Homo sapiens: one gene and its partner. The protein of the gene in region 1 binds, or shares a complex with, the protein of each later gene. Each region holds a gene or a part of one and is shown on either strand. Other genes may lie near its edges. A codon is read from its position in the direction of its gene.

Region 1 (5,102 bases):
TGATTCTCCTGCCTTAGCCCCTCGAGTAGCTGGGATTACAGGCGCCCGCCACCATGCCCGGCTAATTTTTGTATTTTTAGTAGAGACGGAGTTTTCACCATGTTGGCCAGGCTGGTCTCGAACTCCTGACCTCAGATGATCCACCCGCCTCAGCCTCCCAAAGTGCCAGGATTACAGGCATGAGCCACCGCGCCCAGCTTAGTTATAGTTATAATCAAACAGTATTGAGCATGGTCTGCCAGGTAACTGTTCTACATCCTTTACGTGGAACATCTCACTTGAGCCTAGTAACCCTATATGTAGAAACTGTGGTTACCCTATTTTGCCACTGAAGGAATTACATACAGAGAGACACGGGCATTCAGAGAACAAGTCACTTGCCTAAGTTGTATGCTAGCAAGTGGTCGAGCTAACGTCCAACCCAGGCAGCCTGACTTCAGAGCTTTGCTTTTGATCATGCTTACGAGTATCACGGGATTTAGTACCGACCAAGCACACAGCAGTGTGACAGCCCCGAGCTCGCCTGTGCAGCCTTCCTGGGTATCACTCCGTTCTGCCCGGAAAGGCACCATTCAGGCCGTGAGTGTAAACGTACGAGTGGGCAGGGGGAGTGGTAGAAACGCCCCTGCTGATTGCAGGGTTTACTCACGTATTTACCTTAACGCCCGTTCTTCTGCGACTACTATAAACATTAAATGAGATAGGGGATCAGATGTCACCGTGAAACAATGTCAGGGAGTGGGGTGGGGCTGGGGGGGATTTTTGGGGCCATTCAGCCCCATCGTGTCTGGACAGGGAAGGTGAAGTGAAGAGAGGCTGCCTCCCCAGAGCTGAGACAGGACAGACTCGGTCCTCTCCCTCTGCTGCAGGTGCTCTTCCTTTCACCACTCAGCTTTTCTTGAAATGAAAGTTTGAAAGTTTAGCTTTCAGAACTAGCTGTGTGGCTTTGTGCAAGTCACATGTCCTCTCTGGGCTGTATCCCCTGCAGTAGGGAGAATAAATGAAACTAGAGAAACCCTCTAAAGTCCATCTCACTAGGATTCTAGGCTTCTGGGTGTTTGGGAGCTTGGGTAAAGAATCAGAAGGGCCTGTGCTGGAGAAAGGACCTGTTCACTCGCCCAGCCCCAGACATTCAGGAGGAGGCTGTCACTCACTGGAATGACTGAACTCTGAACCCGTGCGTCTGTTCCCTCCCGCTGGGCTCACTGAAACCACTGAAGCAAAAGGGGTTTCACTGCTCCACACCACACTTTCACTGCTCACAAACTACTTCTCCCTTTTTGAAGGACGAGTCTCGAATTAAGGCCACTGTGATGGACGTGAAGCCCGTGGACTACAGAGAGTATGGCCGAAGGCTGGTCATGAGCATCAGGAGAAGTGCATTGATGTGAGAGGAGCAGTGCCAATCGGGCAGAAGTTTGCAAATAGGCAGAATGGAATCGATTTCCTCCCACCTCCGTGTGACGATCCCATGTTAGCTACACAGTGCAGAGGCTCTTGATGGTGGACTAAGCAATTTCCCCCCTCGTGCGCATCTCAGAACCCATCGGTAGGCAAAGGAAAATACGCTCAGGTGGTTGTGGTGTAGACTGTGTCAGGCCTACGGAGTCAGCCAGTGGCTAGCGCAAGACCAGTCACTCCCTCTGCCTTCAGGCTTCTGTCAATTTCATTATCATCAAGCAGGAATTATGTCGTAAGTCACTGACCCTAACTGCAGACCATGAAGTAAATTATGTAACTAGGTTTTTGCTTCTCCAGTGGTGACCACCCCCCCCCATCCCCGCTCACAACTTGGGTTCTTCTCAGCGGGGCGAGCTGAGAAGCGGTCATGAGCACCTGGGGATTTTAGTAAGTGTGTCTTCCTAGAATTCGAAGGCTCTCTCTTTCTAGAGGTGCTACATAGTTGGTAATGCTTGGAATGGCAATAGGGTAGAATGATTAATCAAAGGCATATCTTCTATATCTGAAGAGTATCCTTCCTTCAGGGTTTAATAGACTGAGTCAGATGGGTCTGATATTAATCAAAATTGTCTCTTCTGAGGACCGCTGATAAGCATTGACTTGCCGTCCCCTAAGGAAATCCGAGCGGCTACAAAGCGTTTCTTTACTTCTCACTTCAATTAATGCTGCGCTTCGCTTGGTGAGTGCGTACTTTTTCTACCTGTACACATTCCTGCATTCATGTATTTTGTTTTTTTTGACTAAAGCTATGTTACATGGAAAGGATTTTGAAGCCTTTTGTTTCCCTTGCTTTGTTTTAATAAACAGTATATTCTTTGGTTGTGAATCCTACTTTCTTTGAATGCAAAGAGTTCCTATAACTGGAAAGCAATTAATTAGCCTTCATAATAAATGTTCACTTGGGGGGGATGTTAACTCATTATAAACCCGAAGATTAGTCCAAGGCATGGAGATCCTTCTTCCTAGTGTTTGCAGCCCTGAAATGCATCTTTCAAAGCATGAAAACACTAAAAACAAAAAGCCATTTTGCCTGAGGATGCTGATGATCTGGCACTTGGGATTTTATTGATGTTTACGCAGCAGTCTAACACCAACCACGCTTTGAAATGTGTACAGACAGTGAGCTGGTAAGAAAACAGTAATTATGCTAGTGGGCCTTTCAGTCAGCAAAAGCATGCTCGCTCTGTGTGTTCCTAATCATATTAATTATCTATCCGGTGGCTGCAACACACCGCCTGCCATTGGCCGCACATCTCGCCGTCGTACCCCGGCAGTGCGGCGGTCACTCTGCAGCCAGAGGACCTGCTGTTCATCACTGCACATGCCGCCTGCGGAGGCTTTTGGATATGGGGAGTGATGGTGTCCTGTCTGTCTCCCCCCTCGGTGTCTGCCGTTGACATAGGGGCCAGCCAGCCCTAGACGGGATGACTTCCGTTCCTGAGGACAGACACAGAGGGACTCCTGCTCAGCCTCACTAATTGTTTAGACACATTCCTTCCTACCCTTCTCTAGTCTCAGGAGATGGTAACTGGGTCGCATTTCAGTCTCTGACTGAGGCCTCAGCCATTTTTACGGAAGTTCTTTTCTGTCTGACCTTGCTTATAAAGCATCGACGAGAAAATTACAGTCTTCAACCCTCTTCTGGATTGACAAATTGTGGCTGGGAAGTGGCGATCTAGCTTTCAGCCCAGTAACCAGTCTTTCATGCCTACTACTCCCAGCATTCCCTCCTCTCCCCACGTGTCTGTCCACACAGTGAAGAGGCCTGACCAGCCGTGGTACCAGGACAGGACGTGTCCAGGGAACGCTGACACCTGTCCTCGCGCCTTCTCAGTGGCCAGCGTGATGAAACCAGCACGTCTCCGTGGATGTGATTGGGAACCCAGGGGCAGTGCCAGGGGGAGGGCTCCCTCGAGGAGGCTGTTTCTAACAGATTTCCCCACTCAAAGATCAGATCACCAGCAGAGGAGCATCAGAAACTGGCTCCACTGTTGGGCTTTTCAGAGATTTTGGTCCCTGCGGGTTGCCTAAATAGATTCTGGCCCACAGTTTACCTCGAAAGGCTGTTGATGTTGTTCTGTTTCTCCTCTTTCACTTAGAGATCAATGTTGATTTTGCGTACACCATGACATCAGCGTTAGGCAATTAGGAGAAAAAAATCTAATCATTTCGCCTTTATTTCAAGTGGTTCTTGAATTCCCTCCAGTCTCATTGTGAAAGGGGCAGGGAAAAAAATAAAAGGGTAATAATCTGATTTCTGTCCATATTTCCAGTGTTTTATGCTTTCCATTAAAACCTTGCTAATCTCTCGCGTGCTGTTCCTTTTTTGAACTGCAGGGTCAAAAATGTTCCCCTCCCCCACTTCTGTTTCCTGAGTGGGCTGTCTTCAAAAAGTATAAATACTATTGATCGTGGTATTTAATACACTAATGAAACCCATGGTTATTGACTACATAATTAATATACTGTCCAAAAGTGAAGTTTGGCCGCCCAGTATGTAAAGGTTTATATTGACTCATGTTTCTTTGGCAATATGCCGCCCAAGGTTTTATTTATAGAGGATGAAACAGGTTGTTTGGTCTCCTTTTCTTCTTTTCACCTGTTAGAAGGCCACTATTCCCCTAGTAAACTGATTGTTTCCTTGTCTCAAAGGGAAGATTCCCCCCACTCCCCGGCCACCTTTTATGTGGTTTGTTAACTCTTAGTCTTATATCCACTCCGCTGGTAGAGTTCTGGCTTTTATAAACACCTTTGGAAGTCATCGGTTCCTCAAAAAGAGAGCATAGATGTTTAATTTTCACTTATTCAAAAAAACTGGTATTTTTGTTATTAAGACATTAAGTAAATGTTTAAGAAAAAAAAGGATAATTTGGACTATTGACTTTCTTATGCAAGTAATCATATTTGTTTGTTTGTTTGTTTATTTATTTTGAGACGGAGTCTTGCTCTGTCACCCAGGCTGGAGTGCAGTGGCACGATCTCAGCTCACTGCAACCTCCGCCTCCCAGGTTCAAGCGATTCTGCCTCAGCCTCCTGAGTAGCTGGGACTACAGGCATGTGCCACCATGCCTGGCTAATTTTCTGTATTTTTAGTAGAGACGGGGTTTCACCGTGTTAGCCAGGATGGTCTCGAACTCCTGACCTTGTGATCCACCTGCCTCGGCCTCCCAAAGTGCTGGGATTACAGGTGTGAGCCACCGCGCCCGGCCTCCATGTTTATTTTAGGAAAATAATCTACAGTTAAGAAAAACAAAATTGGCCTGGCACAGTGGCTCATGCCTATAATCCCAACACTTTGGGAGGCTGAGGCGGGCAAATCGCTTGAGCCAAGGAGTTCGAGACCAGCCTGGGTAACATAAGGAGACCCCCGTCCCTACAAAAAAATAAAAATTAGCTGGGCGTGGTGGCACACACCTGTAGTCCCAGCTACCTGGGAGGCTGAGGTGGGAGAATCACCTGAGCCGTGGGAGGTCAAGGCTGCAGTGAGCCATGATTGCACCACTGCACCCCAGCCTGGGCGACAGAGCGAGACCCTATCTCAAAAAAAGGGGGAGAAAGGGTGGGTGCGGTGGCTCTCCCTTGTAATCCCAGCACTTTGGGAGGCCAAGGCAGGTGGATCACCTGAGGTTAGGAGTTTGAGA
Region 2 (6,904 bases), on another chromosome or scaffold:
CAGGAAGCGGAGGTTGCAGTGAGCCGCGATCACGCCATTGCACTCTAGCCTGGGCGACAGAGCAAGACTCCGTCTCCAAAAACCACAACAACAAAAAACAAATTAATTCACGGCTTAGACGAAGAGTCAAAGTTAGACCTCTAGCTTTTCTGCATCTACACTCCACCCCTCACATACCACACTTTGGGTAGAGAAATCTAAGGCCTAAGAATGTCCATATGTTTTAATTAATTTTGCTTTTAGTTAAAACTAACATGTGTTTAAACTGCAATCTTAGAATGTACTGGGAAGGCCGGGCGCGGTGGCTCACGCCTGTAATCCCACCACTTTGGGAGGCCGAGGTGGGCGGATCACGAGGTCAGGGGATTCGAGACCATCCTGGCTAACATGGTGAAACCCTGTCTCTACTAAAAATACAAAAAAAAAAAAAAAAAAAAGAATGTACTGGGAAATAGGAAGTAGTCATTAATAAGGTCCTTTGTACGTGATTTTCTTTTCTTTTTTTTGAGATGAAGTTTCGCTCTTGTTGCCTAGGCTGGAGTGCAATGGCATGATCTCAGCTCACCACAACCTCCACCTCCCAGGTTCAAGCAATTCTCCTGCCTCAGCCTCCAGAGTACCTGGGATTACAGGCAAGTGCCACCATACCCAGCTAATTTTTTTTTATTTTTAGTAGAGACTGGGTTTCTCCATGTTGGTCAGGCTGGTCTCAAACTCCTGACCTGAGGTGATCCGCCTGCCTTGGCCTCCCAAAGTGCTGGGATTACAGGTGTGAGCCACCATGCCTGGCCCACGTGATTTTCAAATGACAACAAAAGTCAATTTTTGGAATATGAGACTTGAGATACAGGAGTAATAGATACAATTTTCATGCAGAATTAGGCTAAGATCAAACCTACTCCCTTTTAAACAATTAAATTATAGTAACATTCACAGAAGCCATTTGATGAGTTTTACGACAGTACCCTTAAGATTCAAATCGGTGCTCAAAGTCACATAAAAATTACCAGTCATTCCTAAGGATGCATAGTTCTTTATTTTCTAGTGACTGTGAAGCAGTGATGACCAGGCGCTTTTCACAGTTTCCCTCTTTGTTCTGTACAGTATTGACTGCCAACACCAGGTACCGGTTATCCATTCCTGTGCTCAGAACTGTTCTTGGAAAGGAAGCTACCACTTTCTTCTGAAATCTAAAGCACACACATACAAAACTATTTTAGCACAACCATGAAATAAGAAGCCATCCAATATGTTTTATCTACAAACCAATCTTCCAGTTTTCTAGGTTTCTTTCTTCTGAAAAGCTTATTGCAATGACATTTAGACAAAATAGGTAAAATTAAGAGAGCAAAGACACAGAAGAATTCCTATTATAAAAACTTCCCAGAAGTAATGCCATTTCAAACATGCTCATGATATGAGATTTTCCATTTTAATTTCTGTAAAGCGTTCTGTGGGACACTCATTACAATGAGGATTAAGAATAAACTGGAAGCCAGGCATGATGGCGCACACCTGTAGTCCCAGCTACTCAAGAGGCTGAGGTGGAAGGACTGCTTGAGCCCAGGAGTTTGAGGCTGCAGTGAGATACGATCATGCTACTGCACCCCTTCCTGAGCGACAGAAAAAGACCCCGGTTCTGGCGGAGAAAAAAGAAAGGAAAGTATAAATTGGACAACATTAAACAAGAAATTTCTACCACTGGTGCAAGCCTTCCCAAAGTACAAGTAAAAGGAGATGTTTTGGACACGATCCTTTTTGTAAATATGAGACTTATGTTACGGAAAAGGGTATTGTCCGTGGTTCACTGAAAGTCCTATCATGAGCCACAGAATTGTACTTAGAAATAATTTAGTCCAACCTGCTAAAGTAATGCCGGAAATCTTTCGATAAAATCTCACTGGACAGAAAGCAGGCTTAATACCTATCGATTTAGCTCAATCCTTTACAGAGTAATTCAGAACTTTATTACTTATATTTATAGTGGGTAAGTCAATTTGTCAATACTTTCATCCATCGGTCCAAGCTGTCTAAAATTATGCAAAATAATAATCTCTCAAGAAAACAGCCCTTCTCCTATTAAGTACCTCTTAAGTCTTCCCCGTTTGACTGAGGCATCAGTGAGGGACCAAAGGAGGGTCCAAAGTCATTACCTCTCCAGTGATAACACCAAACGCCTTTCACATTACACTGCAAGTTATCTTTTGTTACCTGACCGTAGGTTCTATTATTTTGCAAACGCTTTATTCCTGTAGTCCACCTAACCTCAGGCCATGAATTTCGCAAGATTGGCTATGATGCCTTAAAGATGTTTCTCAAAAGGTATTGCTGATCAAAAGCCCAAACGCAAAAGTCCCTCAACGCTAATTAGCATTATTGCTATAATATTGAAAGTAATTCCACATTATGACCGTGGTTAACTTCCTCTGATCATTTATATACACCATGCTGAGGGTGCAGAGATCCCCCAAGGATAAGTTAATCCAACTAAACATCGAGAAAAGCCTACGGCGGTTGCAATTTCCTATTATAAAAACATTCCAGTGGCCGAAACTCCTCAACTTAGGGAGAGAGGTGAAATCAAGGGAAACAATGAACTGCTCGGCGAGGGAGAGTCCAGGCTCTGGCTGAATGTGGCCCCAAAGAACACCTTGGGAGGCAGGCCCCGACTCCGGAGGCTCGTCGGGTGCCCAGGGAGCTGCACCGGGTCCCTGGGCCCCGGGCCCGGTCAGTCTGAGGCGGTGCGGACGCAGCCTCTCCCGCTCCTTCTTTCAAATCTCCCGCTTTGTTCCCACACCCTCCCCCCTCTCCGCTCACAGCTCCGCCGGCAGCTCCGCCTCCTCCCAAAAACTCTTCTCCATCAGCAGCTCCAGTTCGTTCAGCTGCTCCATCCTGGACGCGGGGATCGCAAACTGTAGACAGAAAAGACAGCGGAACCGGGGGTAACACAGAAAGCTTAGAAAAGGGAAAAAGGCGCGAGCCTGCGCACCTCGCGCGCATGCGCCAACCCGCAGATGTCCCAAATGACCTGCGCCAGGCCGCCCCTCCCGCGCCGGCGCGTTCCACGTGGGGCCCCTCACCTGAGCAGCAGGGCTCTGTCCCCTGCCTTTGCTCCCTTGCTTAGGACTGGGAATACAGGGAGTCTTCATATCTGAAGCAGACTAAACGCTCCTGCCTTCTCTCTTGACACTCCAACCCGTGTCCGAAACCTCCCGGGTTCACACCATTCTCCTGCTTCAGCCTCCCAAGTAGCTGGGACTACAGGCGCCCAGCTTAGTTTGAACACAACCTTTACACGCTTAGTTTGAACACAACCACATTTGTAGTTGCCCAAAACCAGGCGCCCCTGGTTAGCCTTCAGAATTGTGCACTCCCTGGGAAACAGCCTCTCCCCTTTTTTTCAGAAAACTTATTGAGAAAATAGAAACTGTCGGATAGGAACTCCTTGATCATGCCACGGCTAAATCTACAAAACTTCTGGCCAGGCATGGAGGCTCACGCCTGTAATCCCAGCACTTCGGAAGGCTGAGGCGGGAGGATCACGAGGTCAGCAGTTGAGACCAGCCTGGCCAACATGGTGAAACGCCATCTCTACTAAAAATACAAAAATTAGCCGGGCGTGGTGGCATGCGTCTGTAATCCCAGCTACTCGGGAGGAGGCTGAGGTAGAATAAATTGAACACGGGAGGTGGAGATTGCAGATCCTGCAACGGCACTCCAGCCTGGGTAGAGCGAGACTCCGTCTCCAAAAAAAAAAATTCTACAAAACTTCTAATATCTGCACCATTCTTCATAACCTCTTTCCACCTTTTTTCAATAGCAGACAAAGTGTTCTTCTGGTTAAAGGGCAATCGCTCCACTTGCACTTGGCATCCCAGGGCTTCAAGCATTCTCAAGGGCATCGCTTCTTCAATTATTCTCTTGTATCATCAGCCTCGCCCTCACTATTGGATTGAGCCTCTAATATGGCCTGGTGTCTCCCATTTTTAAAAGATGTTTCCTTGCTGGGCACAGTGGTGTGCACCGATTTTTGATATTTATATACTTCTCTCATCTGGAGGCACTGACAAGAACATCCAGAGCCATGTTAAATATCAGTGGTATAACTGTTATCCTGATTTTTGTTATTCATTTTTTAAATAGATAAAATGCGCCGGGTGCCCGGTGGCTCAGGCCTGTAATCCCAACACCTTGGGAGGCCGAGGCGGGTGAATCACTTGAGGTCAGGAGGTCAAGACCAGCCTGGCCAACATGGTGAAACCCAGTCTCTACTAAAAATATAAAAATTAGCCGGGTGTGGTGGTGCACTCCTGTAATCTCAGCTACTCAGAAGACCGAGGCAGGAGAATCACTTGAGCCTGGAAGGCAGAGGTTGCAGTGAGCTGAGATCACACCACTGTACTCCAGCCTAGGTGAAAGAGTGACTCAGTCTAAAAGAAAAAAAAAATTGGCAAAAAGTTAATATATTTATCATGTACATGGGCTTTCAAATATGTACACACTGGAATGGGAGTTATTCTATTAGTATTTGTCCCTGATATCAACAGCTTTATGACCTACCTTTGCAAGTGATATAACATCACGGTAGTCACAGGCCCACTCAGCCAGATTCAAGGGAAGGGGAACACAGTTCCTACCTCTTGATGGGATGAGTGTCAACGACACATAAGAAAAGCATATGGGGCCTGGTGGCTCACGCCTGTAATCTCATCACTTTGGGAGGCTGAGGCGGAAGGATCATCTGAGGTTAGGAGTTTGAGACCAGCCTGGCCAACATGGCAAAACCCCATCTCTACTAAAAATACAAAAATTAGCCAGACATGGTGGCGCATGCCTGTGATCTCAGCTACTTGGGAGGCTGAGACAGGAGAATCGCTTGGACCTGGGAGGCAGGGGTTACAGTGAGCAAGATTGTGCCACCGCACTCCAGCCTGGGCAACAGCGAGAATCCATCTAAAAAAAAAAATAAAACCATATGAATTGGGATGTGTTCTGGTCATTGTTGGAAAGTATAAAGGTATACTCTGCCAAAATGTCCTTTATTAGATTGAGGAAGACCCCTTTGTTCTAAATATGATTCATTTTGATAACGAATAAATGCTGGATTTTGTCAAGCAGTTATTGCATCTATAGAAGGACTGTATGGTTTTTCTCCTTTATTCTGTTATTATGAGAAGCTTTACCATTGATTTCACAATGTTAAAAAAAACTTTGCATTCCTAGGATAAACCCAAATTGGTCATGACATAATAAACGTTTTATGTATTACTGGATTTGATTTGCTCTGTTGTTAAGAATTTTTCCATCTGTTGGTTTTTTGGTTGTTTTGTTTCTTGAGACAGGAACTTGCTCTGTCACCCAGGCTGTAGTGCTGTGGCACAATGACAGCTCACTGCAGCCTCGATCTGCCAGGCTCAAGTGATTCTCCCCTATCAGCCTCTCAAGTAGCTGAGACTACAGGAGTGTGCCATCACACCCAGCTAATTTATTTTTTTATTTTTAGTAGACACAAGCTCTTGCTGTGTTGCCCAAGCTGGTCTTGAACTCCTAAGCTCAAGCAATCCTCTCAACTCAGCCTCCCAAAGTGCTGGGATTATGGGTGTGAACCACCAAACCCAGCCCATCTAAGTTCTTGAAGGATACTGATTTGTAATTTTCTGTTTTATAACAGCATTGTGGGGTTTGGGTATCAGGGTTATACTGGCATCATAAAATGAGTTGGGAAGTGCTCTCTTCTAATTTCTAGAAGTTTCTGAGATTATTCCTTAGCTATTTAGTACACTTCACTACCTAGCCCTGGGGTTTTCTTTGTGGAAAGGTTTTTTTTTTTTTTTTTTGAGACGGAGTCTCGCTCTGTCACCCAGGCTGGAGTGCAGTGGCGTGATCTCGGCTCACTGCACACTCCACCTCCCGGGTTCACACCATTCTCCTGCTTCAGCCTCCCAAGTAGCTGGGACTACAGGCACCCACCACCACACCCGGGTAATCTTTTGTATTTTTAGTAGAGATGGGGTTTCACCGTGTTAGCCAGGATGGTCTCGATCTCCTGACCTTGTGATCCGCCCGCCTCGACCTCCCAAAGTGCTGGGATTACAGGCATGAGCCACCGTGCTTGGCCACTGCCGTATCTTTTTAAATGAAAGTACTTGTGTTTTTTTTGTTTTTTTTCAAAGGATATCTGGGTCATCTATGATGTTACTGTTACCATCTAAGGGTTTTTTTGTTTGTTTTTGAGACAGAGTCTCTGTCACCCAGGCTGGAGTGCAGTGGCATGATCTTGGCTCACCACAACCTCCACCTCCTAGGTTCAAGCAATTCTCCTGCCTCAGCCTTTCAAGTAGCTGGGATTACAGGCATGTGCCACCACGCCCAGCTAATTTTGTATTTTTAGTAGAGACGAGGTTTCTCCATGTTGGTCAGGGTAGTCTCGAACTCCCAACCTCAGGTGATCCACCCGCCTCAGCCTCCCAAAGTGTTGGGATTGCAGGCGTGAGCCACCACGCCCGGCCCTCAATTTCTTAATTTTTTGAGACAGGGTCTCACTCTGTCACCCAGACTGGAATGCAGTACTGCAATAACAACTCACTGTAGCCTTGACCTCCCTAGACTCAGTTGATCCTCCTACCTCAGCCTCCCAAGTAGCTGAGACTATAGGTGCACATCACTATGTCCAGGTATATTTTTAAAAGCAGACACAGGGTCTCACTATGTTGTTTGGGCTGGTCTCAAAATCCTGGGCTCAAGTGATCCTCCCATTTTGGCCTCCCAAAGTGCTGGGATTACAGGCATGAACCACTACGCCTGGCCTCACTTTCTTTAATTGGCTACACAGATTTTCTGTTTCATCTATGTCAGTCTTGGTTGAATTTTTCAAGGTATTTTTCCATTTCATATAAATTGTCAA

The links.
Region 2: the proteins of RPA1 (region 1) and DNA2 are in contact, whole or in part, in a crystal structure (PDB 5EAY), measured with the Homo sapiens proteins. Residues at the interface, in NP_002936.1 of Homo sapiens: Asn29, Ile30, Arg31, Ile33, Arg41, Arg43, Leu44, Leu45, Ser54, Ser55, Met57, Asn85, Leu87, Lys88, Arg91, Val93, Ile95; in NP_001073918.2 of Homo sapiens: Glu6 (codon at 2,876), Leu7 (codon at 2,873), Glu8 (codon at 2,870), Leu10 (codon at 2,864), Met11 (codon at 2,861), Lys13 (codon at 2,855), Ser14 (codon at 2,852), Phe15 (codon at 2,849), Trp16 (codon at 2,846).

The regions. Positions count from the first base shown.
Region 1 is NC_000017.11:1,895,785-1,900,886, forward strand, and holds the end of RPA1 (replication protein A 70 kDa DNA-binding subunit), read left to right. Parts: intron 1-1,286; coding exon 1,287-1,391; 3' UTR 1,392-4,298; downstream 4,299-5,102. UniProt on the Homo sapiens protein: As part of the heterotrimeric replication protein A complex (RPA/RP-A), binds and stabilizes single-stranded DNA intermediates that form during DNA replication or upon DNA stress.
Region 2 is NC_000010.11:68,468,974-68,475,877, forward strand, and holds the start of DNA2 (DNA replication ATP-dependent helicase/nuclease DNA2), read right to left. Parts: upstream 3,001-6,904; 5' UTR 2,913-3,000; coding exon of another isoform or gene 2,892-2,912; coding exon 2,818-2,891; intron 1,191-2,817; coding exon 1,008-1,190; intron 1-1,007. UniProt on the Homo sapiens protein: Key enzyme involved in DNA replication and DNA repair in nucleus and mitochondrion.